4 linked regions of the Homo sapiens genome follow. The protein of the gene in region 4 interacts with the protein of the main gene of each other region in a pairwise test. Each region holds a gene or a part of one and is shown on either strand. Other genes may lie near its edges. The genes, in order: SMIM11, GOLM1, PTH and ASPH.

Region 1 (5,934 bases), on a different chromosome or scaffold from region 4:
TGCTGTGGTCTTCCATTCACGTTCTAACAGGACCCCAGGCCGCAGCAGGATTAGGCAGAATAAAGTCACCAGGGCTCCTGGCAAAGGCTGGAGCGGCCTCCTTCAGAGAGAATGAGGTCTGGGCTTACGTGAAAGTCCACTTTGACTATGGTGAGCACTGCAGCTTGTAGGAGCAGGGTCTGTCTGTCCTCAGAACTTTGTAAATTCTTTCCTGCTTCCTAAATTGTCCTGAAGAGCATCCAGCAAGCACAGTGCAATTTAAGATGGAACTCCCCTGACTCCCCACATGGAAAACGCATGTTCGACACAAACTGGGCCAGGACGGGGAGACGTTTACTAACACACACTCCTGCAAGTTTCCCATGCAGCCATCAGCAACCAGACCAAACACTCCGCACTGCTTCCAGTGCCAGCTGCTGCCACCTCACTCCCCATCCACTCTGGGGTCTTGCGAAGAAGTGGGAGAGCATGAGCTCTTGTCACAGGGATCTGCGTGTGTTAGGTGCTGAGTAAAACATCTTCCCATCCTCCCTGCCCTTGGTTCCAGTGGCTCCTAGGGTGCCCTACCCTTCATTTCTCATCAGCAAATCCCAAGGAGCAAACAGGTGAGGAGAGGACAAAACACACCCTAGGGCTCCCAACGATTCCTCCCTGCGAGGACCCTCATGGTTAACACAGGAGTCACCTTTCCTGGACACACACAGCCTCCCTCCACCCTAACAATGAAAACACTCCAAAACACTCTCACAGGGGTGTAGCACCTGTAGGAGGAAAAGACGAGAAAGGAGGGTATGGGAGGGCAGCCTATGAGGGGGCCTGGGGTCGGGGGTAGCTGGCCGAAGCACCCAGTGCTGGGGACCCCACTCCCACAGCAGATGTTTCTGCACCACCTTGTCCTCTATGGAAGCCTCTCACCTGGGACCCCCCAGCTTGAGATGGTGGGGGAGGTGTAAGTTTACAAAACCCCCCGCTTTACAACACGGGGTAGAGGGTGCTGTGTAAGAGAAAGAGAAAGAGATACACAATTTGACTTATTCCAAAGGCCACGACTCCTTTTTTTACAAAGGCATTTTATTTTAGTAAACAAAATACTGGTTATTATTATTTTTTTTAATTTTAATTTTACCTTTTTTTTTTTGGAGACGCAGTCGCTCTGTCACCCAGGCTGGAGGGCAGTGGCACGACCTAGGCTCACTGCAACCTCCACCTCCCGGATTCAAGCAATTCTCCTGCCTCAGCCTCCCGAGTAGCTGGGATTACAGACGCGCGCCACTACACCTGGCTAATTTTTATATTTTTAGTAGAGACAGGATTTTACCATGTTGGCCAGGCTGGTCTCAAACTCCCGATCTCAGGCGATCCACTCGCCTCGGCCTCCCAAAGTGCTGGGATTTCAGGTAAAAGCCAGCATACCCGGCCAGTACTGGTTCTTTTAAAAACATATACAAATTCACACTATTTTAAGTGAAAGGTCTAGGTTGGGAGTTTATCCTCTGACAAATTATTCAATAATTAAGTCTTTCTTCTCTTTCTTCTCAGCTGGAGTCCACTCAAGCTGACATTTACATGGCAGAATCTAGAAGGGAATACCAAAGGGATGAGTAGGAAATGTTTGATAAGAGTATACCCGATGTTTACTGCTCAGCATAAAGACGTATGCTCAGCCATTTAAACTTAACAAGCGGACACCACTCAAGTCTATCACTCAAGTCTATTTATTAACCAATGTATTTTTAGCATCAGTTTCCCTTCCATCTGAAACACCCCACCCCCCTTTTATTTATTTATTTATTTTTTGAAACAGTCTCACTCTGTCACCCAGCCTGGAGTGCAGTGGCACAATCTCAGCTCACTGCAACCTCTGTTTCCCAGGTTCAAGTGATTCTCGTGCCTCGGCCTCCCAAGTAACTGGGATTACTGGCACGTGCCACCACGCCCAGCTAAGTTTTGTATTTTTAGTAGAGATGGGGTTTCGCCATGTTGGCCAGGCTGGCCTTGAACTCCTGACCTCAAGTGATCCACCCGCCTCGGCCTCCCAAAGTGCTGGGATTACAGGCGTGAGCCACCGCGCCCGGCCTGAAAACGCTTTTTGTTTGAAGCAAGTCTCTAGTCTTTAAGAAGCTGCCAGCCTAGAGAGGAAGACCAACTCCCTGAGTTGCTTCTAAGCCATCCAGGCCTGACTTAAATGCAGGTCTCTGCTGATGTTTGTGGGAGGAACAAAGCCTTTATGATCTTCCATCTCATCTTTTCTTCCTTTGATCAGTTTAGCACACAAAATGGGATTGTCAGGAATATAAATTCAATCAGCAACATTTTAATTTAAACTGCCTTCCCTCACCCTTTTTAATTTCTCTCCTCCCCATCGTAATGCCTACTCCTAAATTTCAGTCAATCAAACACCTTAAAAAAAAAAAAAAAAAGAAAGAAAGAAAGAAAGAAAGAAAGTAACTTCTTCTATCTAGCAAAAGCCTACAGTTCACTGGGGACCAGCGAGTGGGCAGCTGCCGGAAGTGGTGAGTAACAGAGTGAAGCATCCCTACGAGCTCACTTGCCTGTATTCAGGAAGGTAGCACAGCTTGGGCTTGGCCATGCTGATCGAATGCATTTGACCTGGGATCAATTTCTGACTCTGTTCTTCACCATGTAGAGAGAGCCATTCTTTCAATCTGAACATGCCTCACAGAGTCATCAGGGCTGAATAACACAGTTGTGCATGAATGCTTAGCAAAGTCCCCAGCACAGAATAACCACTTAGTAGGTGTTGCTACTATTCCTCATCAGTAGGTCTTTAGCCTCAACAAGCCTGACGGCACTGCAAGGGAATTCAGCATGGAATCTCAGAGTGGGCTGGGTTTGGGAGGCCACCTAGCCCAGTGGTTCCTACAATGACCTGTTGCTGAGAAGACAACCTAAGGATTATCTAATGGGTTTTCAAAAGAACAGAGGCTGGGCACAGTGGCTCACACCTGTAACCTCAGCACTTCAGGAGGCTGAGGCGAAAGTATCGCTTGAGCCCAGGAGTACAAGACCAGCCTGGGCAACACAGCAAGACCCCTTCTCTACTAAAAATTGTTTTAAAAACCTAGCCGGGTGTGGTGGCGTGCTCCTGTAGTCCTACCTACTCGGGAGGCTGAGTTGGGAGGACTGCTTGAGCCCAGGAGGCTGAGGCTGCAGTGAGCCGAGATTGTGCCACTGCACCGCTCTAGCCTAGATGACAGAGTAGGATCCCCTATCTTAAAAACAACAACAAAAACCAACACCCAAACCTAACCAGAGCCATTATGGAATCTCTCTGGGCTGAAGCTGGGAATCTTCATTTAAACAAACACCTGGGCAATTCTGATCATTAGCTAGGTTTGGGAACCACAGATCTAGAACCCCACCGCCACCATATTTGAATCCTTTTTTTTTTTTAGACAGGGTCTCGCTCTGTCACTCAGGCTGGAGTGCAGTGGTGTGATCATGCCTCACTGCAGCCTTGAACTTCTGGGCCTCAAGCAATCCTCCACCTCAGTCTCCTGAGTAGTTGGGACTACACACCCAGTAAGTGTGCAGCTAAGTTTTTTTTTGGTTTTTTTTTTTGGTTTTTTTTGTTTTTTTTTTTTAATTTTTGTAGAGACAGGGTTTCACTATGTTGCCCAGGCTGGTCTTGAACTCATTGGCTCAAGTGATCCTCCCACCTTTGCCTCCCAAAGCACTGGGATTACAGGCATGAGTCACCACACCTGGCTGAATCCCCTGATTTTTAAAGTACAGAACTCAACCTGCAAAGTGAAGAAACTGCATCAACACACTGGAATCAAGGTAACTGTGAATTGTCATGTGTTAAATCTGTAACAGGGGCTTAACAGGAACTTTCTGGTGCCTTGATGTATTGTAACTCCCCAAGTGTGTTCTAAGCCCACCAGTGTGCACTGTGATAGGCACTGGGTGACAACGATGAGTGTACCCTCAGGCCTGGTGAGGAGGTCCTTGGGAAGAACCTAATAAGCAAGGCCAAAGGCCATGGTGGCTGAGGAATGGCCTGCAGGGGGATGGGGAGTGGGCACATGTGGCAAATGAGGTCTGGGTTAAGACCAGACTGGGAAGGGATTTATTTGTCATACCATGGAGTCAGACTTTATCTTAAAGGTAACAGGGTTTCTTAATCTTGGAATTTCAAATGACCTGTGACTCCCCACATCTGCAAACTTCTCCCCACACACAAATGCAGATGGTTTCAGTATGTGTGCTTCTCTGGGAAGAAGGTCCACAGCTGTCACTGAGTCCTCAATTCTTAACCCAATACCTGTCAAGAACCATTGCCACCGCAGGTTTCAAGAAGGATGAACTAATGCTCCGTGCACCTTGGCTCAGCAGCACTCACATCCCAGGACCAGGATCTGCACACCTGGCCCTTTATGGAGCAGTTCTACCTTAGAGAACAGGTGAGGCCACATGCCCCCACGCAGCCCTTCAGACCCGACGGACAGGGAGGTCTCAGACCTCTCTTGTTCATTGATTGGTCACCCCAACCCACTGGCCAGCTCCCATTTGCAAGGTTGGGTACTGTGGACTCACCTTCAGTTATCTTTTTTCTCTGATTGCTTCTTCCTTTCAGCCTCCAGTTTTTGTTGTTTTGCCTCCAACCTTTTTCTTTGATACATTTTCACCCCAGCAAATGTCAGGCAGAGAATTAATGTTTTTGCTGCCAAGATATACAGCAGCAGGGGCACGTGCTCAAGAACCTTCAAGAAGAAAGAAGCCATGCTAACTAAATGTTCCATCACCGATATGGGAGGTTTCTTTTATGATCCTTCAGTCAACAAATATTTACTTAGCACCTATTCTGCAACAGGCACGAGGATAGGGGGCTGGAGCTACACTGGAGACCAAGCAGAAAAGGTCTCTATCCCCATGGGGCCAACAGTCAAGTTACAGCTCTGCTCTTTGCTGCTTGCTTGCGGCTGGCTTCATGGAGGGGACCACCGGTCATCCACAGGCGTGGGGACTCTGGTCTCTCACAGCTCAACCGTGCAACCTGCTGATCACCCAGGCCCTTGCTTCTGAGGCAGCAGCCAGATCCAGTGAAAGGAGCTGGAGCCCGGAGGCCTGGGTCAGAGCTCTACTTTACCACCGACTGACCGTGTGACCTGGGTCAGGCAATGAGCTCCTTTCTTTCTGAGCTCCTGCCCCTTCATCTACAAAGTAAGGGTGAATCAGACCTTGCTTCTGGAAACTGCAGCTTTAGTACTCTGGGATTTTCTCTTGTTTCTAGAGACTCACTAGCACTGGCACTTGCTGGTAAAATAAAACACGACAGAACTCAAAACATTAAAACATGGCTACTTACTAACTGCTCTTGCAACCCCATTCACTAAAATAAAGTCTAGGGAAACACTATGCATTTGAATTACTCACTCTTTGCACTAGTAGGTTTTTTGTGTGAAATTCTATATATTGCAAATAGTACTTCAAAGCAATATTAGTTCCATACACATGGTTAGCATGACCTGAATGATATGTATGTGCTTTTTGTGTGATTAAAAATTCCCTCCCAAATAGTGAAAAGGTATGCTCTGGTTGAGCAATCATTATTTTAGAGGACCAGGTAGGATTTTATCCCAATGAAATCCTTATTTCTGTCAATCACTTATTATATGAAATACCAATGAGATTCCACTGTGGGGGATACATGTGCACCTCCCTCTAATAGTCTAACCGAAGTTGATCTGAACCTAGTTAGTGTGTACAATATGCTCACAGAACCGGGGGGCTGGAAATAACTTTCAAGGGGACCTACTCAACCCCCTGGTTATATGAGCAAGGAAAGAAGAGCTCCTGGAGGTTGAGAGGTTGAAGGTCCCACAGCTCCCTCATGAGGAGCCAGTTGGAAGGACATTCTAACCCCGGGGCCAGTCTCCCTTCCACTGATGCCTGATTTTCAACAAACTG
Region 2 (8,789 bases), on a different chromosome or scaffold from region 4:
ATCTGTCGTGATCCCTAGGGCAGCCTGGAGAAAGCATGCAGAGTGCACACGTGGTGAGCACAAAGCTTTCGGGGTACTGTGGGTTGAAGACGTCCTGACAGCCCATCTCATTCCACAGAAGGTTTAAGGCAAACTGCCATCCTTAGTCCACAGTTTGAGGGTGGATTCTTTAAGGATCTAATAGAGGATGAAGGGGAAAAGCAAAAAAACAGAGCTGTGACAAGTTTTATAAGTTGAACAGAACATTTTATTTCTCAGCAATTCTATGCGTACAAATTAAACATGAGATGAATAGAGACTTTATTGAGAAAGCAAGAGAAAATTCCTATCAACCCCAAGGAGGACTCAAAGTGAGGCTGGAAGAGGACTTAGAAGAGTATGAAAGTACTCTAAGATTTTATCTAAGTTGCCTTTTCTGGGTGGGAAAGTTTAACCTTAGTGACTAAGGACATCACATATGAAGAATGTTTAAGTTGGAGGTGGCAACGTGAATTGCAAACAGGGCCTGCTTCAGTGACTGTGTGCCTGTAGTCCCAGCTACTCGGGAGTCTGTGTGAGGCCAGGGGTGCCAGCGCACCAGCTAGATGCTCTGTAACTTCTAGGCCCCATTTTCCCCTCTGAAAATAAGAGGGTTGGATCAAACGATCTCTGGGGCCTTAGCATCTCAAATCCTGTGGATCCTCCTACTTACCCCTTAGAGAGCCTTACTGGGAAGTCAGTCATTAATGATGTGGCCAGTTATTTGCAAGTGGTAAGAGCCTATTTACCATAAATAATACTAAGAACCAACTCAAGTCAAACCTTAATGCCATTGTTATTGTGAATTAGGATTAAGTAGTAATTTTCAAAATTCACATTAACTTGATTTTAAAATCAGTTTTGTGAGTCATTTACCACAAGCTAAATGTGTACACTATGATAAAAACAACCATTGTATTCCTGTTTTTCTAAACAGTCCTAATTTCTAACACTGTATATATCCTTCGACATCAATGAACTTTGTTTTCTTTTACTCCAGTAATAAAGTAGGCACAGATCTGTCCACAACAAACTTGCCCTCTCATGCCTTGCCTCTCACCATGCTCTGCTCCAGGTCAGCCCCCTTTTGGCCTGTTTGTTTTGTCAAAAACCTAATCTGCTTCTTGCTTTTCTTGGTAATATATATTTAGGGAAGATGTTGCTTTGCCCACACACGAAGCAAAGTAAATAAAGACCACAAATGTTCAAATTCTAAGCCACTTAATAGCGTTTTGTACATTAAAAATGACAAGGGTTATTATACAAGTAGCCTTTTAAAAAATTCTCACACAGAACAGCTTTGTATTTAGACTTAAAGCTGTTGCTACTTTGCTAGTGACGTTTGTGTTAACAGTCAGTGCTCTAGGCCATTGATTGATTGATTGTCAGAATCAGAAGTGACTACACAAGAGCATTAGCCAGACTTTTCAGTGAGAACAGGTAACAGGCTGGCACCAGCACTTGGTACAGCACGTGGACAGGACGACGGAACCCAGAGTTCTCTGTCTCTCCTTCACAGCAGATGGACTCTTCTATAGGTGGCTGTTAATTTACACAAAGTTATATTCCAGAATCAGGAAGCCCCGCTGTCGCCAACACTTGAAGGAGAACTATGTTCCAGTTTTGGTGTTGAACTTCTCACGAAATACCTACTACCAAAAATTGTGACACCTTATTAGACACTTCCAAAGTACCCCCCAAAAGCTGTTTAAAAGACCATTCCATTTTTTCCTACACAAAGTGCATACTAAAATTTCACAATAATCATCTTCAGATGTACATTTTATTTAGTACATTTCACAGTTTTCAGTATTCAGTCCCTCATGAACATTTTATAGTCATCTCTTCGGCCCTGTTGTGAAATATGTGATTCCAGTTCAATTCAGAGTGTATGATTCCGCTTTTCACGCTGATCAAGTAAATTTATGGTGTCTCTTTTCTGATCTTCAACATTAAAAACTAAAAAGGAAAAACACATAATATTCTATAGAGTATTAAATGAGATACTAGCCCTAGGCAGGTCCCATTTTCTTATCAACTTCTAGAAACTGTCATAAAGAGGACTGCATCTCCCACAGCAACACTGTAATTGGGAGTTGTATTCCTCATCAAGGACAAGATGGCAACGGTGATATGGGAGGGGGACAGGGAAGTGCTGGGTAGAGAAGGGCAGGGTCACTGGCAAGGGCTCCACCCTCAGGCTTGTGCCCATGGACCTAATGAGAACAAGGACTCCTGTCTTCTTGCCCAAATGTTGCATTTTCCAAGACCACTCTGGCCTGCCATGCCACCCATTCTGTGCCTATAAAAACCCTGAGACCCCAGCGGGCACACACACAAGCGGCTGGACGTCAAGAGGAACACACTGGCAGAAGAACACATCGAAAGACGCTGGCAGGCCATTGATGGTGGAACGATTCGGACGCCAAGGGAAATTCGGCCAAGGACAGTAGGAGATCCCGGCTGCTGAGCAGCCAGACTCCAGAGGAAGACTACCTTCCCATGCTATCCCCCTTCTGGCTCCCCAGCCATCTGCTGAGAGCTACTTCCACCACTCAATAAATCTTGCATTCATTCTCCAAGCCCACATGATCTGATTTTTTCAGTACACTAGGGCAAGAACCTGGGATACAGAAAGCCCTCTGTCCTTGCGATAAGGCAGAGGGTCTAATTGAACTGATTAACACAAGCTGCCTGTGGACAGCTAAGCTGAAAGAACGCACTGCAACACACACCCAGTGGGGCTCCAGGAGCTGTAACCACTCAACCCTAGATGCTGCCGCGGGGTTGAAACCCATCCTCCCCACAACCTGTCCGTCCGCATGCTTCCCCTAGGGGTTTGAGCTGTGGGGCACTGAAGAAGAAAGCCATACCCCCATTGCATGCCCTGTGAAGGGGATAAGGGAACTTTTTTTTTTTTTTTTTTTTTTTTGAGACGGAGTCTGGCTCTATCACCCAGGCTGGAGTGCAGTCGTGCGATCTCAGCTCACTGCAAGCTCCACCTCCGGGGTTCACGCCATTCTCCCGCCTAAGCTTCCCGAGTAGCTGGGACTACAGGCGCCCGCCACCACGCCCGGCTGATTTCTTTTTGTTGTTGTAGTTTTAGTAGAGGCGGGTTTTCACCCTGTTAGCCAGGATGATCTCGATCTCCTGACCTCGTGATCCGCCCGCCTTGGCCTCCCAAAGTGCTGGGATTACAAGCGTGAGCAACCACGCCCAGCTGGAACTCCTCCCCTTTCAAAGTGTCCAAATGGATGACCAACAATGTGCCATGAAACAAAGCTGAAGCACCTAAAGATTCCATACTTGTTTGTAACAGTGACATAATGCCCCATATGCCATAGAAAATGGACAGTATCAAGTGCACTCATGACATTTTAAATATAATCACCACGCTCCTGTGCGGCGTGACTCCCTTGCTACTGCACTTCTAATGGCACACGCTGCCTCCTGAGAGCTGTCTGCAGCTTCAGACAGCTCTTGTGACTCCAAAGCTCTCCCTTTACAGAGCTGATGTCTGTATGTAGCTTCTACCATCTGATCTTACTCTATCCTTTTAACACACAGAAAACATAAAAAGGCACATCACAAATAAAACCTAAAACCACGGTCTTGATTTATAACTATGGCACATTAAATGGTAGTTTAATGACCATTAAATACCTGCCATATTAAATTAACGGTATCTGTTAAAGGCTCTTAATAAAGTTGGAGCTAATGCTTTTTTCTTCTAATTTCCCTGGAGCAAGTAAGGTCTCACTGTTTCAATGACACAATCTTAAAATAATGTTGAAGCTGATGTTGACATTTCTTCAGCTTCTTCAAAGAGCTGACAAGGCACTCATTTTCTTTACCTTACCTACTTACTTTGTTTAAAACCTTGCACAAGGTCAAGTCCTTAGGACACCTGAGTGTAGGGAATGAGAGATCCAAAAAGGCTTCACCGCAAAGCCCATCATTTAGTAGGAAACTAGGCCCAATTTAAAAGGTGGTTAGAGCCGGGGTGGTGGCTCACACCTGTAATCCCAACACTTTGGGAGGCTGAGGCAGGCAGATCACCTGAGGTCAGGATTTCGAGACCAGCCTAGTGGACATGGTGAAACTCTGTCTGTACTGAAAATACAAAATTAGCTGGGCATGGTGGCATGAGCCTGTAATCCCAGCTCCCAGCTACTCAGGAGGCTGAGGCAGGAGAATCACTTAAACCCAGGAGGCGGAGACTGCTGTGAGCCAGGATTGTGCCATTGCACTCCAGCCTGGGCAAGAAGAGTGAGACTCTGTCTCAAAAAAAAAAAAAAAAAAAAAAAAGAATAGAAGTAAGACAGTGACCAGACCGTGAAACATGCTCAAGAACATAAATGAGTGGAGTCAATGACAACAGAGAGTTTGTATTTGCTTCAAAGTCTGGCTGCTAGTGTATTTTGCCATTTGCCTTTTTAAAAAATTGCCTAAATGAAGACAGCTGAAAATTCAAATTAGGACTTGGATTCTAAAAATTCCAAACAACTCTGCCAATTGAAACAACTGACATCCTGGAGAAATATAAAAGATAATTTTTAGGGGGACATTGTTGAAAAATCAGACAAGCACAGATTGAGGGACTTTCAACCAAATAACTGAGCCACTACCCTTCAAAAAAGACCAACAACATAAATGATAAACTGCTCCACGATAAAGAACACTAAAGAGGTCTGACAATAAATGCAGTGTATAATCCTGAACCCAGAAAAAAAGACATGAATTGGACACTCACTAAATTTCAACAAAGTCTACAGATTAGATAATAGCATTGTATAAACATTAATTTCCTTATTTTGGTAATTTTACTGTGGTTATATAAGATGTTAACATTTGGGGAACCTGGGTGAAGGGTATACAGAAATTTTTTGCTTTTTAAAGAAGTCTAGATTATTTCAAAATGAAAAGGTAAAAAAAATGTAAGTATTAAAACATTAAATGAATAATGCATTGCCCAGATGGTAATAAAAGAAGGTATTGTTAGCCAGACGTGGTGGCTTACGCCACCCAGCACTTTGGGAGGCCAAGGCAGGCGGATCATGAGGTCAGGAGATGGAGACCATCCTGGCCAATATGGTGAAACCCCGTCTCTAATAAAAATACAAATATTAGCTGGACGTGGTGGCGTGCGCCTCTAATCTCAGCTGCTCGGGAGGCTGAAGCAGGAGAATCGCTTGAACCCGGGAGGCAGAGGTTGCAGTGAGCCGAGATCGCACTACTGCACTCCAGCCTGGGCAACAGAGTGAGACTCCATCTGAGGAAGAAAAAAAAAAAGGGCATCGGCAGGATCAGCAAGGCCGAAACTGAAGTGAAGTAGTTGTTACAACGACTCCTGCTGCCCTGAGGATTTCTGCTGAATTCTGAAGTTTATGATGATATTTTAAAAGCAGTTACCCTCAGAGAAGATGGGGAAGTAATTCATAGTCATGAAAACTGTTAAAAAGGAAAGAAATCAAGCATTTATCCTATCTACCTTATACAAACAATACCACTGAGGTTTTTTTTTTTTTTTTTTTTTTTTTCCCCGAGACGGAGTTTCACTCTTCTTGCCCAGGCTGGAGTGCAATGTCACAATCTCGGCTCACTGCAACCTCTGCCTCCCGAGTTCACGCGATTCTCCTGTCTCAGCCTCCCAAGTAGCTGGGATTACAGGCATGTGCCACCACGCCTGGCTAATTTTCTTGTATTTAGTAGAGACGGGGTTTCACCATGTTAGTTAGGCTGGTCTCAAACTCCTGACCTCAGGTGATCCACCATCCTCGGCCTCCCAAAGTGCTGGGTTACAGGTGTTAGCCACCACGCCCAGCTGAAGTGTCTATTTCTAAGAACATTCCAATTAACAAATAACATAAAAATGAATTGATACAGGCATTGACCATCAACTGGCATCACAAAAAGAAAGACGCCAGGTTGCAGTCAGCCAAGATCGCGCCACTGCACTTCAGCAAGGGTGACAGAGCGAGACTCCATCTCAAAAAAAAAAAAAAAAAAAAAAAAAGACGCCAGACATGACGTGCCTCCCGATGAAAGAACCAAAGAACACACCACCACTCACCTTACCGAGGGCTTGAGCCAGGACCTGAGTCTCATCAAGTCTCTGGGTATAGCTGCCACTCTACAGAAAACAGAGACCAGGCGAACTCACTCAACTCCCCCATGACTCTATAATCAGCAGTATTCAGGCTGTGGGAAACTACAGTCACATGGCTTGGATTCTTTTGTTGTTGTTGTTGAGATGGATTTTCACTCTTGTTGCCCAGGCTGGAGTGCAGCGGTGCGATCTCAGCTCACTGCAACCTCTGCCTCCCGGGTTCAAGCGATTCTCTTGCCTCAGCCTCCCGAGTAGCTGGGACTACAGGCGCCCACCACCACGCCTGGCTAATTTTTTCTCTTTTTAGTAGAGACGGGGTTTCACCGTGTTAGCCAGGATGGTCTCAATCTCTTGACCCGCTGATCTGCCTGCCTTGGTCTCCCAAAGCGCTGGGATTACAGGTGTGAGCCACCACACTTGGCCCAGAAAAATGAATTTTAAGAAAGAATACTATGAGTCCATAGTGATACCAAAACAAACAAGTGTGTTGGAGGAGGGAGAGGAGTTCCTTAAAAAATGTCAGGTAATAAATGTGCTGTGATGGCAGCATGTAAAATGTCACCACTTGGGCAATGTTCATCAATGGATGGTAAAGCTACACAAGTTCAAAGCATCCTCTTCTAGATGACGTATTAATATCAAAAGGAAAATGGCCTTCTGAGACCTTGTGGGCACCATGTTAGCTAAGGGATCAACCAATCACCTGTAGGACCACCTGCTGTTATGCCTCCTGGGGAGAAGCAAGAATTCATCAGCCTGAATCCACCACAAGCAAACAGACAAGGCCAGAGTTTGATACATTCTACAAGATACTGGCCTGGACTCTTCAAAAATTCAAAATAATAATACAAAGGGCAGCTTTCATAGCTGCTTGGAAGCTCTATGCACATACTGGGGCTTCTCATCTGGGAGGCAGACTGATCAAGTAGTGACCTAGCCATTTTGTTGGGAAATCCCTAAATGTCACTGAAAAATCATCCTACTTAAAGAGTTGAGCCACACTGAATATGTTTCTAGAAACGATGCAGACTTTCCGAATGGTTTTCATCACCTTGGGCTTCTCAACCCTCACTTCCCTCCACTGCCCCTGGTTTAAAAGCTCCTAAAGAACAGACGATCTCCTTGAAATGACCCATTAATTACAATATAATTTTGGGGATTCATTGGATAATCACGGTGAAGGACCAGGAAAGAGAAATGAAAGGTGACCTCGTCACCGATGTAGGCCCCATTCTTACCATCTATGTTTCTGTCATTCCCTGCCAGGGCTGCTTGCTTGTCTGTCTCAGATTCTGCTTCATTTTCATCCATGTTGTAGTCATCTTCTCCTCTCAGTTTCTGCTGGTTTCTCCCTGTAAAATTAGCACATAAAACATAAGCTACATCATTTCTGTCTTGATGTCACAGGACTATCAGAGCACAAGTGCTGGGGGTTAGCCATACTTGCTCACAATCAGATCTGTCTGCTGCCTCTCTGGAAATGGTAGGGACGCAAGGGCTGGCTTCCAGGACAAGCACATGCATTATGTGTACTCCACTTGGACTCGGAATCTACAGACAGCATGGCCCTAAATACAAGGGTGCATTCTAGGCAGAACATGGAGAAACTAACAACCCAAATCTCAATTTTTTAAAGAGATAATCAACTCAAGATAAAAGAAAGGTGCCACTGTTTTAGGAAGGAACGGATATCTACAGCTAATGACAGCATCTCCTTAGAATGGAGAGAGGAAATGGAGCTGCCACTGTGAGACACGTGAGAAGGTGTCCCTCATACTTAGAGCATGAGAGCACCCATTACTCTATTCTTCCCTGGAGTGGGCAGCAGCCAGAGAAGATGAGGACAAAAGGCTTTCAAGAGACCTACTCAAAGGGTTTAACTTACATATTTTATATGTGTATGCAGGCTGGTAAACAAAATCTTTTTTTTTTTTTTTTTGAGATGGAGTCTCACTCTGTCGCCCAGGCTGGAGTGCGGTGGCGTAATCTCGGCTCACTGCAACCTCCGCCTCCGGGGTTCAAGCGATTCTCCTGCCTCAGCCTCCCGAGTGGCTGGGATTACAGGCACGTGCTGCCATGCCCAGCTAATTTTTGTATTTTTAGAAGAGATGGGGTTTCACCATATTGGCCAGGATGGTCTTGAACTCCTGACCTCATGATCCGCCCACCTCGGCCTCTCAAAGTGCTGGGATTACAGGCATGAGCCACTGCGCCCGGCCAAACAAAATCTTTTTTAAAAGTGCACACCTGGAAAAGCAGCTCTAGTCTCTTTCTCTGGCTCACTGCCTGGGGTGGAAACTGCACAGGCCTATGTGTCCACCGCGTTTCTTCAAATGAGGTCACCACACCTGCATCTAGAAGCAGGTGCATCCTGCAGGCACTGTGGCATCTCAGGCCCACCTTTGTTACGCTTTGTGACCAGCCGCTGAGGGGTCTGACACTGGAGCGCCACAGGCTGAGCGAGCCAGTGAGATCTCCCCGCCTCACACACCACAAGCATCTTCTTGCTGGGTGAGCACGGAACACAAGGACAGAGCAGGGATACTTAGGGGGAGGCTGACAAAATCCAATTCTTTAACTGGAACTTGGAAGGACACGTTCTTCAGTAAGACACTGAAGTGAAAATTAGATTTAAATGGAATCAAGGTAACTTCTGCAAATA
Region 3 (9,334 bases), on a different chromosome or scaffold from region 4:
CAACCTCTTTATTTTATGGATACATTAGTATACATTATATATACACATAATTTAACTTATAAATTAGTTTTATGCTCCTAACTATCTTTTGGAGATTTCTTGTGCAAGTTTTATTTATTTATTTATTTATTTATTTTTATTTATTTTTTTAGAATGCAATTTTTTATTGTTTTCTAAATCTATTTGTACACTTAATATGCTAGTATTAATTTCACAAACAGTATAAAGAATGTACTCCAATGATATTAAGCGGCAACTACTCACCTGAAAAAGAAAACATTGTCTCTGAAATAATTCCTAATTATACAATTTTGCAAACTAATAAGCACTATAAATATTAAAATGTTAAGACTTCAATGTATAATGTCAATAACATCCTGCCTTTTTAAAATTGCTTAAAACATTTGTTAAAGATCATGCAAAATAAACACTGTATTAAAATGCTAGATTACACTCAAACATCAAGGCAATGAAACACAAAAGAGCAACTATTTAGCACAATGACTGGCCAAGTAAATAACTTAATCAGCATATTAATAAAAATCCACTGAGTGATAAACATCAAAAATGTAACACTGAATCTAGATAATCACGCATCTGCGATCTCACCATCTACCGTCCTAACTGTGACTTGGGGTAAACTGCCAGAATTCATTCTGCATAAATGAGCTATGTTAAAATGTTAGCAACATTTCATTGCATGATGACAGAGTACATTTCTAGTCCACACAGTACTTCAACGTGATCATTCTCTTAACTCAGCTAATAACTAATGGAAAGTACAGTTTTACAGTCATACCACTTATGTATATACATATATTTTACCCTTGCTTTGTTACATGTTTTTAAATTTTTTTTAAAAAAGTATTTCCTTTCTTATGATCCTCCCCCAGAATTAACATGCTGACTTAGGAAAAGACGAAGTAGATAAAGTCTATCCTAGTATAGAGAGCAATGGTTTACTTTTACCTAATTAAATATTTCCTTGTCATTTATCAATTGTCACTGACCTTTTTTATGTAATTATTTCCTCATTCACTCATCTATAAATATTTATTAGTGCCTGTTGTTACCCATGTCTCCTTGATTTTCCAGAAAAATAATTCATGTTTTTTTTTTCTTCTCATTGCTAAGCTCACTTAGAAAAATTAGGCACCATTTAAAAGACTTGGAGAACAGACCAGCGTGGCTTCTTGGGCACAGCTGGATGGTGCTGGAAGCCAGGCCTGGGATTTGGAGAGAAGAGTCTCCAACAGATAAACCCACGGAGGTCACCAGCCCTCCCTGCATCTACTCTCCTAACAGCTCAGGATGGCCCTGTTACACTACTGCCAGCCCTGGTGACTCGCTTTCTTAGCAATTTTTAAAGCCCTCTTCATTATGTACTTCCTACTTAAAATTCAGAACCTCTGTGATAAGCAATGCCTCTGTCATACAGAATGCTGGATCTCAGTTTACTGAGCCTCTCCCTGTAGTGTCACAGGCTGTGCACTCACCTAGATGAGCCCCTAAGAGCAGGGTTTGCTTCTGCTTCATCTAATGCCACATCTTCCCTCAAATGTGTGGTCACCAAATGTTCTGCAAAAAGGGTCTCTAGCTTTTTACTTTTCTTTTTGGCAAATTAAGCCCTTTAAAATACTTCTGACCTATCTTTATACTCAGATCTCACCTCATCTCAAGTTTTATGGGGTAATGCGCCAGTGAAAGGTACAGTGGTATTAGTGAGTTCTGAAGCTTCTAATTACATAGACAATAGAGGCTGGCTGGTGAGCCATGCTTCTCATGCTCCCTTCTGTCACACTGCAGAAATCTTAAGCTACAAGAGGAATGAAAGAGCCTATTTTTGAGAAATCCCCCCGCACTGCATTTTATGTTGATTATACCTAAATGTTTATAACTTGCTTGAAAATGCCTAATTTTCTTCATAGTGTAAATTGTTAACACTATTTACGTAGCAAATCCTTTTCTTAAGTAACCTTCATTTCAGGCATTGTAATAACCATAAATACCAAACTAATAGGTGCTAATCTAGAGATTTTCACTAAATTAATTCACATTTCTCCTAGCATTAAAAATAATGTGTCAAAGCATTTAAAAATCATCTGATTAATTACTTGTGATATGGATTTCGAGCTTTATCTCTGAATGGAATGCTTGTTTGTAGCTTATTTCTTCAACTTATTTTATTAACAATTATCTTTTAATATAACTTTTGTCTCTTTCCTCGTTTCACATCAGTATAGGATATTCTTGCCTTAATCTGCATTTCAGTACTTGCAAAGGCTGTTATTATAGAAGTGCTTTTCCTTAATGCTCAGTGTACTACCTTTTAACATACACATAGAGTAGTTATGTACTCCTATTTTACAGGGAAACTGCATCATTTAGAAATAGCATAGGAAATACTGTTTTCAGAATACAGCTGTCATTTATGTAAAGGAAATAAATATTTACTAGTCAAACTGGGCTTATCCAACTTTAGTATACAGATTGGGCTCTTTATGAGCCATAAAATAAATAATCTAGATAAGAATACTCTGCAGGAAAAACAGAATATTAACTCCACTTAATAAATTTATAAAGATTATTTAAATCAGAACTATTCATTCACCATCAACCTGTTTTATTTCAAAATTTTGACACCGATACTATTATATTAAAGCATAGCATGCCAAATTTTAATGATTTTTTGTTGTAATTTCAGATGAGGTTTTAAAAGGCAAGGTATCTCAGAAGACTTTAATCAAAAAGGATTTTGTGATTTGAGTAGCATTAATTTATTTTGTATGTGGCATTTTATATTAAACATAACTCAAACTTCTTAGCATTTTACCTTGAAGAAACAACATGGTATTTGTAGAAATGGTACACATTAAATAATAACTTGATTATCAAAATCTCATGAGATTCAGAAGTGAATTTTTAAGTTTACTTACCATACAATGTCTTAGAACAAGATCTTCGTTCAGGTATGTTAGTAGCTGATGCTGAGTAAACTAAAGACAACTGATGAATTGGACTGCAGACCCCTTAAATGGTGACTTTTATATATAGGTCTTCTGCTTACCAAGAGAGGCTCTTTTATTGTTACAGATGATGTCACTCCCAATTCTCTGGATCTCAACTATAGGTTCAAAGCAGCACATACACACACCCATTGGGCGGTGCACACTCTTCTTAAGTTTCAGATAATTGGATACTAAAAGGAAAACAGCATTTGGCTTGACAAGGGGCTTATGCAAAGACTTTTAACAAATACAGAATTATACCATCGAGAAAAATTCTATGTGGATTAATGAATCTGAATTTATACTGTAAAAAGACTGATTTCAAAGGTTTATGATAAAGTCATTATCTTACTTGAAAATAAAACCCAAAAATAAGTGTATTTGTTATAACCGTACTGTTGGTACAGTTTTTATGGTAATAAATCATAAATGTTAGGCTTACTTTACAAGCCATTTTCAACCAATCCATGTCACTTCTGGTCATCTTTCAAAAAACAGATATAGCCCTTTTCTTAAAGGAAGTGTTAAGAATAATTTGAGAAAATGCTCTTAGTACATAATTACTTTAAAAGCTTCAAAAGTGAAATTATTTTAAAATTTATTTAACTTATATTTTATTTGTGCATCTTAATCTATAATAATAACATTTGATAAGCACTAACTGCATGCCTAACTACATATATTATCCCACTAGATCTTCACAGCAGTCCTTTAAAGTTAGTACTTAAAGTACTAAAGTTAAGTGCTTATCCCCATTTTTACATGAGGAAACTTAGGCTTGGAAAGCAGAAAAGATGGAATTCAACAAAGGTCTTTATGACACCAGATTCTTACTACCTCAGTTTCTGCCTAGAAATACAGCCCTTCTTTGAACTCCAGTCTTCTTGACTTTAATTTGCAAAGTCATCTGAAAACACAGCAAAAGCTCTTTGCAACATTTTCCCCTAGGGGTTAGGTCTTTATTCTCATGTTCCCTAAGGGATGATGAGAGCCTGCTCCAAAACCTATTGGAGGCATGATGCTGCCACATGTCTGACTTCAAATATTCCTCCAGCAATATTTTCCTGGTCCACCTGTCAAAACACCCTGAATGTCTTTGATATATCTAGGACTCCTTTAGACAGCTTTGCCTTCCCACCAAAGATCCGGTGCCAGAGTGGGATCAGTTCTCTCAGCTCTGGTCCCATCCTGGCTTCATGTCATCCTTTTTCCTACTAGCCATTGTCAAGGTTTGACTCTACCTTAGGTAAGAGCCAGTACAAATTTGAATAGTAACCGTATGGAGTTTATAATGAGAGATATATACTAGTCCTGTCCTAGGAGATTCTCCACTCTGGGTTAACCTCACTTAGAGTGTTGCTCCAGGCTCCATTTTAGAAGCAGTAGAAACAAATGGGAACATACACTGAGGATATCAATCAGTTTGGTGAAAATGTTGAAAACTATAACATGAGAAGTAGTTGAATGAAACTAGAAAAGTCTGAGGAAAAAAAGACGGGATGACTTTATAGCTGTGTTTAATTATTTATAGGGTTACCATAAGGAAGAAGGAGTATTCTCTGTGGTTTAAGAAGGAAGGGCTGGGTTCATTGGGTTTAACTTGGACATTATAATTGTCAAAATAAGGAATCAAGTACCTTCTCAAATAGTGATTTCTCCATCACTGAGAATATTCAAGTAGAAGGTAGATGAGCATTTATCAGGCATACTATAGAGATTCATACATAGAAGAAAGTTGAACTAGATAACCAAGAGGTCTCTTTTAACTGTAAAAATCTGTTGTCTTGATCTTTTTAAAGACCTCTTCTGATGCAAACTCTACATGTGATGTTTGTGTGTCATTTTTCTGCTATACTCTGTTGAGAAGAAGAATTGGAAATACAGATGGTTTTTCTTTTTTCTTTGAGATAGGATCTCACTCTGTCACTCAGACTGGAGTGGTGCAGTGGTATGGACATGGCAGCCTCAACTTTCGGGGCTCAAGCAGTCCTTCCACCTCAGCCTTCTGAGTAGTGGGGGCTATAGGCACACAGCACCACAACCAGCTAATTTTTAAATTTTTGTGGAGGCAGAGTGTAGCTAAATTGCCCAGGCTGTCCTTGGCTCAAGCAGTCCTCCCACCTCTCGCTCCCAAAGTGCTGGGATTACAGGCATGAGCCACCACACCCAGCCACTAATGGATTTTTATTTTTTAACTTTTAAGTTCAGGGGTACATGTACAGGCCTGTTATATAGGTAAACTCATGTCGTGGAGGTTTATTGTACTAATTATATCATGACCCAGGTATTAAGCCTAGTGCCCATTAGTTATTTTTCCTGATCCTCCGCCTCCTTCCACTCTCCATCCTTCAGTAAGCCCCAGTGTGTGTGGTTCCCTTCTTTGTGTCCATGTGTTCTCATCTTTTAGCTCCCAATTATAAGTGAGACCATGAGATATTTGGTTTTCTGTTCCTATGTTAGTTTGCTAAGGATAGTGGCCTCTAGCTCCATCTTGTTCTTTTTTATGGCTGCCTAGTATTCCATGGTATGTAGGCACCACGTATTCTTTATCCAGTCTACCACTGTTGGGCATTTAGGTTGATTGCATGTCTTTGCTATTGTGAATAGTGCTATAATGAACATACGCATGCATATGTCTTTATTATAGAATGATTTATATTCCTTTGAGTATATACCCAGTAATGGGATTGCTGGATCAAATTGTAGTTTTGCTTTTAGTCTTTGAGGGATCGCCACACTGTTTTCCACAATTGTTGAACTAATTTACACTCCCACTAACAGTGTATAAATGTTCCTTTTTCTCCACAACCTCACCCATACCTGTTATTTTTTGGCTTTTTGATAACAGCCATTCTGACTGGTGTGAGATGGTGGCTCGTTATGGTTTTGATTTGCATTTCTCTGATGATCAGTGATGTTGAGCTTTTTTCCATACGCTTGTTGGCCACATGTATGTCTTATTTTGAAAAATGTCTGTTCATGTCCTTTACCCACTTTTTAATGGGGTTGTTTGTTTCTTGTAAATTTGTTTAATTTATAGATGTTGGATATTAGGCCTTTGTCAGATGCATAGTTTGCAAAAATTTTCTCCCATTCTGTAGGTTGTCTCTTTACTCTGTTGATAGTTTCTTTTGCTGTGCAGAAGCTCTTTAGTTTAATTATATCTCATTTGTTAATTTTTGCTTTCATTGCCATTGCTTTTGGCATCTTCTTCATGAAATCTTTGCTCATTCCTATGTCTATAACAGTATTGCCAATGTTGTCTTCCAGGGTTTTTATAGTTTCGGATCTTTAATCCATCTTGAGTTAATTTTTGTATATAGTGTAAGGAACAGGTCCAGTTTCAATCTTCTGCATACACAAATGGTTTTATAAACACATTTTTTGCATTGTTATTATAAAGCCATGCTTAATATTCTGATTTGGAGATTTTTCCCGCTTTGGGTAAGTTTAATGTAATTGACAGCCTTCTAGGAGTGATGCAATTATCACTTTCTTGTTCTTCTTTCTCTTACACTTATTTATAGAATAAATTGTCATACCAAGGCAACCACATTATTAAACTAGTTTTACAGAAAAATAAAGCAAATAGTTCAGACAGTGGTCACTCATTTGTTCACTCAAAAAAATGCGTTGAATACTATCTGCCAGGGGCTGTATTAATCACTGGATAATTGAGACATAATCAATGCCTTGAAATTTAACACATAATTATAATATAATGTGATAGGTATTATAATAGGGGTATGAACAAAGACTTATAAAAGCACAGAAGAGGAAGTGACAATTTCCCTAAAGTTGTTGGAAGCTGTTTTACTGAAAAGCTGAACTGTCCTGACAGGTGATTGTGTTTTCCATCAGAGAAGGTAAGAAAGGACAGAGGGAACTGCATGCGCACAGGCATGCAGGCAATGAAGACTGAATAGACGCAGTGGCTCACACTTGTAATCTCAGCACTTTGGGAGGCCAAGGCAAGGGGATTGCTTGAGTTTAGGAGTTTGAGACCAGCCTGGGCAACATAGCAAGACCTCATCTCTCCTAAAAGTTAAAAAAAAAATCAGCAGGATGTGGTGGTGCACACCTGTAGTCTCAGATACTCAGGAGGCTGAGATGGGAGGATCACCCAAACCTGGAAGATGGAGGCTGCAGTGAACTCTGATCATGCCACTGTACTCCAGCCTGGGCGACAGAGTGAGACCCTGTCTCAAAAAAAAAAAAAAAAAAAGACTGAATATTGAGTATATGCTTGTGGATGGAGAGGGAAAATGGGGAAATGGATGATGACTCCAAAGAAGTAAGATTTGGGTACAATTTTGGAAGATTATTGTGTGAATGCCAAGGAGTTTTGTCTTGCAGTCCTCTCTAAACTCTAAATGTGTGCATGAGTAATATTGTTGTGTCCTTCAAATTTTTCAAAGGACTACTTGACCTTCCCACAAAGCAGTAATATAGCTGCCAAGACTTGATATATAGTTTATCTGAACCATCACGTTCTGGACCTGCAGGTATTAGATAGAAGGAAATCACTTAGGAGGACAGGGTTAGGGGATATGTGGGCACAAGAGACTGATGACACCGTGACAGAGAAGAGCTGAGCACAGCTTTTTGCTTTGAAAACGTCAGCTTTTCTTAGCATTCTAAAGTACTGAAGCTAGGGTCAAACAATCTAATGTATTCCTCACATTTGGGAAGGACAAAATACCATGTGTTGTGCCCTGTTCCCTTATGGAAGGTTTAAGTTAAGACGGATACTTTTTCCTTCTGTTTGCTCAATAGGAATTAGTACAGCTTTGGGAATTTGACATCAACAAGCTTCCAGGGCTGAAAAATCCAGCTACATCTCTCTAATTCCATGTTTTGTGAACAGATTGGATAATTTCTACTCCCTTTTTTTAAAAAAAAAAAACAAATTTACTGAGGTTCAATTGATATACAAAGAACTGTTCATATTTAATGTGTACAATGTGATGAGTTTGGACATACATGTTATCCCTGTGATACCATCACCACAATTAAGGTAATAGACATAGCCAGCACTTCTCAAAGTTTCCTTGTCGTTTAGAAGAACACAACATGAGACCTACCTTCTTAAATTTTGAAGTTCACAATGCAGTATTATTAGGTATAAACACTATATTGTATAGCAGATCTCTAGAACTTATTCTGAATAGTGTCTATCTTAATGGTTGAGTCATTCTTTTGCTCCAAGCCCCTCTGTGCAATGAGTTACTGAGCTCCTTATTATTATTATTATTAATTTTTTTGAGACAAGGTCTCAATCTGTCACCCAGGCTGGAGTGCAGTGGTGTGATCTCAGCTCACTGCAACCTCTGCCTCCAAGGCTCAAGGGATCCTCCTACCTCAGCAGCCTGAGTAGCTGGGTCCACAGGAGCATGCCACCATGCCAAGCTAATTTTTGTATTTTTGGAAGAGACGGAGTTTCACCACATTGCCCAGGCTGGTCTCTGCCTCCTGGGGTCAAGTGATCCACTCGCCTCGGCCTCCCAAAGTGCTGAGATTACAGGCGTGAGCCACTGTACTCAGCCAACCAAGCTCCTTTTGATCTGTCAGAAAAAACTTTCCTCTCTGCTTCCTTTCACCAGCCCTAAACTTGTTTATAGTTAGAGGCAATGAACAAAATGCTTAAAGTGACTTAGCACATAATAAATGATTAATATTCCAAGTATTTATGATAGTATTCTGTTCCTTATTTTTCTTTCTCTAGAATTTTTATTGATGGACGCTGTGATTGTGGTTCTCTAATAGGCAGCATTTAGAAGGCCACTGATCTCTATATATTCATGTTATAAACTCTGGGATCCATTATATCTGAGTAGCTCCTCGAAGTTAAAATGTGTAGCCACATTCACAAATACAATATTACTTGTTGTTTTTTGTGTGTTCTGTCAGTGAACATCTAACCCTGCATGAGTTTTCAGCTTTCTACATGTTTATATGGATTGGGGGAGTGTTAAGATGATATGCAATGTTTCCACGATCAGAAAGAGGCATCTCTAGAGGCAGGGACTGAAGGAAATAGCGAGTTACTGGATGCCTGGGATGAGACTGTCTTTCTAAATACAGTAAGGAATGTCTCTGTCTTGTCACAGAGCAAACCTAGAGAGTCACTTATGGACTTATGGAAACCTTTAGATCTTTATTTAATTGAAAAGGTTTTAGTTGCCTGTGCAAAGTTCTCTGTTTCTTAAAAAAAGAGAGGGAAAGAAGTAGACACAATTGAGTCATCACTTTTTGAATCATAAGAAAGCCATAGCAATTTAATTGAGAAGTAAAGTCTCAAATTTTCTGTGGCCCTTTCCAGTGAA
Region 4 (8,789 bases):
AAGATGTAGACACAGTTTGAAGTTCAATGCAAGCATATTAATTCACCTTTGACATAAGTGAAAGTTTGTGTTCCTTTTTCACTTGTTCTTAAATGTCACTTACTTAAACCTGCAGAGGGATAGATTAATTGCCTCAGCCGACTGAGGCTACTCTTTTTTAACATCCCTAAATGAGAATGGGTTCTTCTCATTGTGCCTCTAAGGGCACTAAGCAGAGAAAGCTGATGAACAACTTTAATGTTAGTTGTTTTCAAAAGGTTTCTGTAGCTATTTGCCAGAGAAGCATGTCTTCGTTCCATTTCATTTTTGTGTTTATGAGGAGAGGGCTGATTGCATCTGAGGGAAGTCACTTTATATGGCCTCTTATTGGTGAGAACTAATACTGGGAAATGTGTCTCACGTTTCTAGACCTACCCCATAACTATTTGAAGCATTTTAACAGGCAAGAGATAGGTTTAGAAAATGCAGTAACTTAAATTAACTTCTCCTGACTTTCATAGTCAGGCATTTTAGAACAAACTCTGCCCATATTTGAGGATCTACAGCCTTTTAAGCATTTTACACGTTGATTCTCTAATAGTCATGAAACAGACATAGTATGTAAAAGAATATGTAAAAGGGAGGAATGCCCGTGATACGAAAACAAAAGTTGATATTGGAACCCTGCATGTGACGTAATGAGTATTCTTTATCCGCATATCCGCAACCTTTTCTTTTTTTTCTCCAGTAGATACTGAGTTCTTACTGTGTGCCAGATAGAAGGCACTGGGTATGGAAACCATTTCCTTCCATCACCCTAAACAGTTAAAGTACAGTGTCGTGTATAGTAGGCTGTACTCGAAAGATAAAGCCGGCTTTTCTTTTAATGCTGTTTACCTGGTCATTAAAGTACGGACGTTGTGCGAACCATTTCCTTCTACTGGGAAAATCAAAGACTTTTTAGCAGTGTCATACTGTGAGACCCATTTAGTTTCCTGCTCAAATCATACAGATGAGGAAATTAATGCCCAGAGAAGTTGCCGAGTTCATTGAAGGTTGTTTAGTTCATGGAAACTCAACTAATTACTGGAAGAACCGAGACTAAGAACCCAGGTTTTGTTATTCATTTTGCCATGCTTGAATTTTAGGTTCTCTAGTATGTAATTGGAGTTGAACTAGATTATCAAGTTTTCTTCTGGCTGTCTCCATGAGTACTACATTTAATTATTGGAGAAAACTATGCTTTTGTCCTATCACCAATTACATTTCCCTTGACAAAAATTCTATTTGAAACACTATTTGAAATTTTAGTTTGAGAAGAAGTATATGTGTTCAAATAGTACGTTTTTTGATATGTCTTACATTGAGAGTCAGAAAATGACGGCATTGGTCACATTAAACATTATTATTTCTTAAGTTGTTGTGTAAACGTATGGGGAAAAAAGAACCCAGTCATTTGAAACATGCATTTTAGGGAAAAGGTGATTTCTTTTTTTTTTCCTGGCCAAACTTTATCTTGGTGGTTTTTTTGCTGAAAAGTGATGTTTGGAAGCTGGAATTTGGGGAATTTATATCACAGATTTTTAAAGCAAGTGTCTGCTTTTTATTTTCTTCAGCTTAAGCTGAAAAATGATAAAATGGTTTTCTACAGAGTTCAATTTTACTTTTTTTTCAGTTTTACTCTTTATAATATAAAAGAAACATGAATAAATTAGACTTCCTACCTTTATTTTGCATATAGAACTGGACTTGCATGGCCAGTTGGGCCCAGGGGAAGCCTTTTTCAAATTTATTGATTTGAAAATAGTTTGACAAAGAAGGATCATGATGTCCTTTTGGGCTTATTTTGTAGACACTCGTATGTGTAATGTTTTCTGTTTGTTTGTTTAGTTTTTCCCTTTTGAGTATCACCCCTTAACTCCCTGTATCTCCTAGCAGCTTTCCATCTCCCTGTTTATTTTGTCTGGGTGTCCTGCTACTACATTAACTTTTGCCACTAGGTGTCACTGTAGAATATATCCCCCTTTTAGTTTGAAGCTTGGGGTTATGTAACAGCAGGTTTTAATTATTATTTAATCCGTCTGTATATACTCAAAACTATTGATAGATAAGCACTTAAAAACTCTTAGCTACTTTTTAACTCTCTCAAGGTGTCTCAGTAGATTGAGCAGCCTTTTTGTTTAGGCTTAATTAGAATGAAATATATTCCTGTACTGCCTGTAAAACATTAACAGCTTCATTTGATGAGTATTTGTCATTTAGAAACACACTTCTGAGTTTAGTTTAGCTTCCTTTTTCTTTCTACTTTGAGTGTCTCTTAGATTACTAAGTAACTGAGGGATTCAATACACTGCTGATTGCATTGTGGAGCCCTTGAATGAAGAGGCCCTAGCAAAATTTTCTTTCTTTAGCCAAAGACCATCAGAGCCAATTGCTTAATCCTCCATTACTCATTCTAAGATGAAAACATAGGAGGACCATAATTCTTCCACTGCAAGAACCGTCAGCTATTTTGTGTTCAGTTCAACAGCATTTTGTCCATCCTGACCAAATCATATGAAACCAAGCACTAAATAATGTTCTGAGGGAGTTTATGAACACATTTTCCAGAGACCAGTTAACCTCTGGTGGTCTGTGGAAGTGAAAGTTCTATATTTTGGACTATATTTTAGTCTTGCTTTAAAATAATCTGTCTCATAGAGATTATTAGAAAATGAATGTATGACATTTTCATTTTCAGCCAGTTATCAACAGAGGAACTTGGATAAAGGCTCATAGGGTCTATCCATCTTGTTGTTAGTTAATATCAGATACTTAGCCCCTGAGCTCTCTGGTTCCAATAGAAAAACCCTTTTCTCCAGAAAGCTAGTGCAGTTTGGGAGAAGGAATATGATGACCTGGATCATATCTGTGTAAGAATCAGAACCAAGAATCGCTAAAAATCTCTGTTCCCAGCCTCCTTAAATGTAAAGAATTATTATCTACTTTCTTTTCAGAGTTTTGATATCACTAATGCTGATTTCATATGGCTTTGTGTTTCTCAGTTGTTTCCGTTAAAGTACGTCTAATAGTAGGGGTGAGTGCAAAACTTTGGAGACTATAAAAGTGTAGATGTCATCAGGCCATTGCATGCTTTGACTTTTTTGATGATTTATTCTTATTTATTTATTTATTTTCATGTTCCATAGCATCTTTGTGTTAAGTAAAATGTATATTCTTGAGATAGAGTTTATACTATGCTTTGAGGACTGCTCGATACATTTCTCTCAGCTTCTGGAGGTGTAAGTATCCATTTGCACATCAACTTTCAAGTTGGTGATTTGCCCTTAATGGCTCAGAAATCTGTAACATTATTTTATCTTACCCAGGCTCAGATATATTTAGTCTTTTGAGGTAACTCCAGCCACTGTTTTAATATCATGAAAATATGCAGCTTAGTTTGTGGCTTGGATACTTCCATATCACCTCTAAATGGCTTGACTTCATTCTGTACCAAGGTACAAAAATGTTTTTCAAATGAACTTCTCTTTAATAAACCCTGTATGTACATATAACCTATGTACACCCCACCTAAACCTCCGGGGAAAAGCCTCAGCCATCTATCGGGAAATGTGGAGGTGCAAGGGCTGCTTGCTTCATTATCTGCTGCCAGTGTCTGCTCTGCACTGCACATGTGGGTGTGATGAGTTTCTCTGGTTCGGTCCTGCAGCTCTGGCCATTTTTATTAGAGGACTAAGGATTCAGGATGTTCTTTTCTTCCCTGTGTACCACTGTGGGAGTATAGTCTGGAGGCCAGTGCTTTAACTTTTTTTTAATTATACTTTCTTCTGGTACTGCTGGGAGCCAAGATGGTATTTTCTTGTTAGTCATTATTTTTAAAATTTTAGTATTTTATTCCCCTGATGTGAGGGATGCTTCAGGCTTTTGTCCTGCATTTGATCTTTGTTTTTCAGGGATGTGTCTTGGTTACCTTTGGCTGATGTGGTTATCTTTTAACGGCAAATCACTGAATGTAATTCAGTTCCTATCAAATTGGCCACAGCTGAGGACAAATTTGGTTTAGATAACCTATTAGACTCAAAGGAAATGTTGAGCTCCCTTGGTGAATAACTCTTTTTAAAAAGAAAATCATCTTTTGAAGGATCTGGGCTATTCGGCCCCCTGTGAGATTCAGGTCACTTGCCTAGTCATGTGACTGTCATCATCTGCCGTAGATACTATGTGTGCTCCAGAGCGGAGAGCATTGGTGAATTGACTTGGTTGAGGGGTGGGGGGCTGGGGGGTGGGAGTGGTTGCTGTCCAGTTATAGTCAGGTTTCCAAGGGCAGCCACTATCTCTGTACTTGGAGAAATGCCAGCACTTCTCTCCTACATGTGTGCCCACACGTTGAACCCAGTGACTCATCCTGTACTTAAGACCCCAAGGATCAGTCTTAAATTTAAAGTAGGAGAATATCCTTTGATAATTTTATTTCACAACCAGCATTGTTGTAACTGCCTTTTCTCATATTTTACATAGGTTTGACAGCCATTTCTACCATTCCATAGTGCAGAGTCACTATTATTTTGTTGTTCTATCCTGTCTGTAACTTCTTTTTCTTATTTATTATTCTTCTAATATACAGTTTTTGTCCCTATCTTTCACAGGCTGCTTTCAATTTCAATTTTCTTGGTATACTGGAAAGACTCTTTTGGTCTTAGTTTCACTTGTAAATTTTATTTAGGACACTTAATTTTTTGACTTACATAAACCTCAAAATCTGTGTTGTAAATATTTGTTGAAAGAATATCTAGCATTTAACTACTTTTCCATTCTTTGAATCAAGTCAATTTGTATAAGATGCTTGTCACTGAGTTTTTGTAAGTTGTTTCATGGATTTGCTTTTTGGCAGAGAGCTAGTTCTCTAACCTTTATAATAAAAATATTTCTGTGTATTGCTCTTTAAAATTGTATGTATTTGAAATAGTACATATTTAAGCCTATAAATAATTGTAGAGAGTAATGCAGTGGATGCCCATGTACTGACCATATAGGCGAAGAAATGAAACATTATCAGATTCCTAGATTTTCCTCTCCTGTGGTATTCCTTCCTAACCATTGTTAAACATTTTATGGTAGTCATTATCATAAATACAGGTATATATGCACAAAATAATATATAACATGTAGCACATACACATTATGTATCCACACATGTAAACTGTATCTATTATTAAATCAATGTATTTGAAAACTGCCCAGGAAGTATATCTATATCCCTATGTGTAGAAATATACCTATACACACACACACATATATGTATATATACTGTATAGCACGTATTAAAAGTTTTGTGAACAGGCTTCTACTTGGCATACTATTTTGACAGCATTTGTTTGAAATTCCTCCAAACTCCAGTTCTTTATTTTCACATATGTAGTTCTACACCATATGAATATGCCTTGCTTTTCATTTAGCCATCCTATCGCAGGCCACTTTTTTTCTTTCAAATAATGCTGCCCTGTACATGTATGTGCCTATCTCTCCCCATGCATACATGTCTGAGTGTTTTTCTAGGGCATAATCTGGAATTGGAATTGTGGGTCATAGAAAGTACACACATTAGACTTTACTGGATATTGCCATTTTTTAACCCCCAAGTGGTTGTATCAACTTACAGTTCTGCCCCTAATGAATAAGAGCTTGTTCTGTGCCATCATCACATTGTCAACATTTGGTGAAGTTTAATATTTGCCAGTTGAGTGGCTGTGAAGTAGTACTTGAGGGTTTAAACTTGCATTTTTCTAATTACTAGTGAAGTTACTGGTAAGAGTAGCCTTGTGTTTCCTCCTTTGAATTGCCTGTTCGTATATCTTGCCTATTCTTCTGTTTTTGTTTTGTATTTGTAGTATTGATAGGTAGATTTTTTTTTTTTAATATCCTGAACCTTTTGATTATTTTTGATAAAGGACTTCTCCTAGTCTGTGTTTACTCACATTTTCATTTTTTATGGTATACGTTGTTGAACAGAATTTTAAGATTTTAATATATTAATAGAATTTTTCCATTTTGTACTTTGTGGTTCACACCTTTATACTTTTTGTAAGACACATAACACAGATGTTATGAATTATTCTTGTATTTTCCTCTAAAAGATCTGAAACGTTGCTTTTTTACATTTAGATCTCTGAACCACCTGGTGTAGCATTTTATTGTATATTTTGTTATTAGGGATCTAATTCAGTATTGTTTTTTAAAAAGGGCCAATGAGAATGTCCTGTACTGTTAGTTGATTTGTCATCTTTTTACCGTAGTCTGCAGCATCACCTCTTGTGTATGAATACGTCGGGCTCTATTTTGTTCCAGGCATGTAGAAGCAACACCAAACTGAATTGCTCACTATAGCTTTGTAATGAGTCCACATATCTGATAGGGCATGTCCTTCTACCCTGCCTTTTTCACTATTGTGTTTGCTGCTTTGGGACCTTTCCTCATCCATTTCTCTAGATTTTAGAATCTGCTTATCAAATATGTTCATGAAAAATATTTGAGAATTTTTACTGGCATTGTATTGAATCTATAGAACAATTTGGGACAAATACAGATGTTTATAATACTGAATCTTCTTATACATGCACCTGGCCGGCTGGCCTGCTTTCTCTTCTTTCTTCTTTCTTTTTTCTTCTTTCTTCTTTCTTCTTCTTCTTCCTCTTCCTCCTTCTTCTTCTTCTTCTTCTTCTTCTTCTTTTTTTTTTTTTTTTTTTTTTTTTGAGTCATGACCTCGCTCTTTCACCCAGGCTGCAGTGCTGTGGCAGCCTTGACTTCCCAGGCTCCGGTGATCCTCCGACCTCAGCCTCCCTGGTAGCTGGGACTACAGGCATGCACCACCATGCCTGGCTAATTTTCTTATTTCTTGTACAGATGGGGTTTTGCCGTGTTGGCCTGTCTGCTCTCAAACTCCTGGGCTCAAGTGGTCTGCTCATCTCGACTTCCCAAAGTGCTGGGATTACAGGTGTGAGCCCTGCACCTGGCCTATAATTTCTTATGTATTTAAGTCTGACAATTTTTATAATCTTATTTGAAAGTCATATACATCTTTTATTAGATTAAGTCTGGGTACTTTGTATTTTAAAAAACATTTTCAATAGTATTTTTAAATTAACATTTTTTAATGAAACTTAAAAAATATGTATCCAAATTGAAAGAGTTCTGTAATGACTCCACCATGTAGATGCTACAGCGGTTAACATTTTGATAGATTTGCTTTGTCATGTCTATTAGTCAATCTTATTCTTTCATGCCTTTCGAAGTAAGTTGCAGGTATTAGTATATTTCACTTTCATAAACATTTACATGTGCCTGTAGCTAACTAGAGCTTAGCATTTGTTTTTTTTTCCCTCTGAGGTAAAATTTTCACGTAGTGAATTGCACAAATTTTAGTGTCTGATCTGAGGAGTTTTTATATCCATTTCTACCTTTGTAAAACAATAACCTATTAGGATAGAGAATATTTTCATCACCCTGTAAAGTTCTCTCAAGCCCCTTTCTTGCGTCCACCTCTGCCACCAGAGGCAGCCATTGTACTACATTTTTTGATCATAGATTAGTGTTTTCTATTCTAGAACTTCTTTTGCAAGTACTTTTTTTTGTAAAGTCTCCTTTCACTCAGCATAATATTTTTTAGTTCGTTTATGTTGTGTACACGGTCACTTGTTCCTTTTTATTGTCAAATAGTATTCCAGTGTCTGACTATAGCACAATTTTTTTTAAGCTTTTATTTTAGGTTCAGGGGTACATATACAGGTTTGTTATATGGGTAAATTGCATGTCACAGGGGTTTGGTGTACAGATAATTTTGTCACACAGGTAATAAGCTTAATACCTGCTGAGTAGCTTTTTTGATCTGCACCTTCCTCCCACCCTCCACCCTCAAGTAGGCCCCAGTGTCTGTTGTTCCCTTCTTTGTGTCCGTAGGTAGTCAATGTTTTGCTCCCACTTATAAATATTAATAAGAACATGGTTCTCTGTTCCTGTGTCAGTTTGCTTAGGATAGTGGCCTCCAGCTCCATTCGTGTTGTATAGCACAGTTTTTTAACCCCATCTTTTATTGGTGGACACTTGGGCTAGTTTTGGGTTATTATGAATAAAATTCTATGAATATTATAGAAGCCTTTTTTGACATATGTTTTTATTTCTCTTGAGCAAGAGAGGGATTACTGGGCTATAGGGTAGGTGTATGTTTAGTTTTATTAAGAAACTGTTCAACTCTTTTGCAGAGTAGTTGTACAATATATTTTATACTCCCACTAACCATGTGTGGAATTGGTTGTTCTACATATGTACCAACATTTGGTGGTGTCAGTCTTTTTAATTTTAGCCATTCTGGTGGGTATGCCGTGGCTTCTTACTGTAGTTTACATTTGCAATTCCCTGATGAATAATGATGTCAAGCACTTTTTCTTGTGCTTATTGGCTACACCCATTATCTTTAGTGAAGTTTCTTTTTTGCCCATTTCTAATTTTATTGTTTTTTGTTGCTGAGCGGTAATTCTTTATGTATTCTGGATAGAAGTTCTTTTCAGATATATATAGCACATATTTCTCCCAGTCTATAACTTACCTTTTTATTTTTTTATTTTTAATGCTGATATTTATTTTTTCTTTTCTGTTTTTGCTTTCTGTGTTCTAAGAAACTGCACATTCTCACGTCTCAAAGCTATCCTCTTTTATTTTCTTCTAGAAGTTTTATAGTTTCAGTTTTTATGTTTGTCTATGAGCATTTTCACATTAATTTTGAATTAGATTTATATTTTTCTATATGGAATTTCAGT

Evidence for each region.
Region 1: the proteins of ASPH (region 4) and SMIM11 interact in binary tests that used the Homo sapiens proteins (3 or more experiments, as listed by UniProt).
Region 2: the proteins of ASPH (region 4) and GOLM1 interact in binary tests that used the Homo sapiens proteins (3 or more experiments, as listed by UniProt).
Region 3: the proteins of ASPH (region 4) and PTH interact in binary tests that used the Homo sapiens proteins (3 or more experiments, as listed by UniProt).

What each region holds. Positions count from the first base shown.
Region 1 is NC_000021.9:34,384,271-34,390,204, reverse strand, and holds the end of SMIM11 (small integral membrane protein 11), read right to left. Parts: intron 4,728-5,934; coding exon 4,563-4,727; 3' UTR 4,561-4,562; intron 1,577-4,560; 3' UTR 1,054-1,576; downstream 1-1,053.
Region 2 is NC_000009.12:86,025,917-86,034,705, forward strand, and holds the end of GOLM1 (Golgi membrane protein 1), read right to left. Parts: intron 7,480-8,789; coding exon 7,366-7,479; intron 1,978-7,365; coding exon 1,901-1,977; 3' UTR 230-1,900; downstream 1-229.
Region 3 is NC_000011.10:13,492,975-13,502,308, forward strand, and holds the start of PTH (parathyroid hormone isoform 1 preproprotein), read right to left. Parts: upstream 3,024-9,334; 5' UTR 2,937-3,023; intron 1-2,936. UniProt on the Homo sapiens protein: Parathyroid hormone elevates calcium level by dissolving the salts in bone and preventing their renal excretion. Acts by binding to its receptor, PTH1R, activating G protein-coupled receptor signaling.
Region 4 is NC_000008.11:61,704,344-61,713,132, reverse strand, and holds part of ASPH (aspartyl/asparaginyl beta-hydroxylase), read left to right. Parts: intron 1-8,789.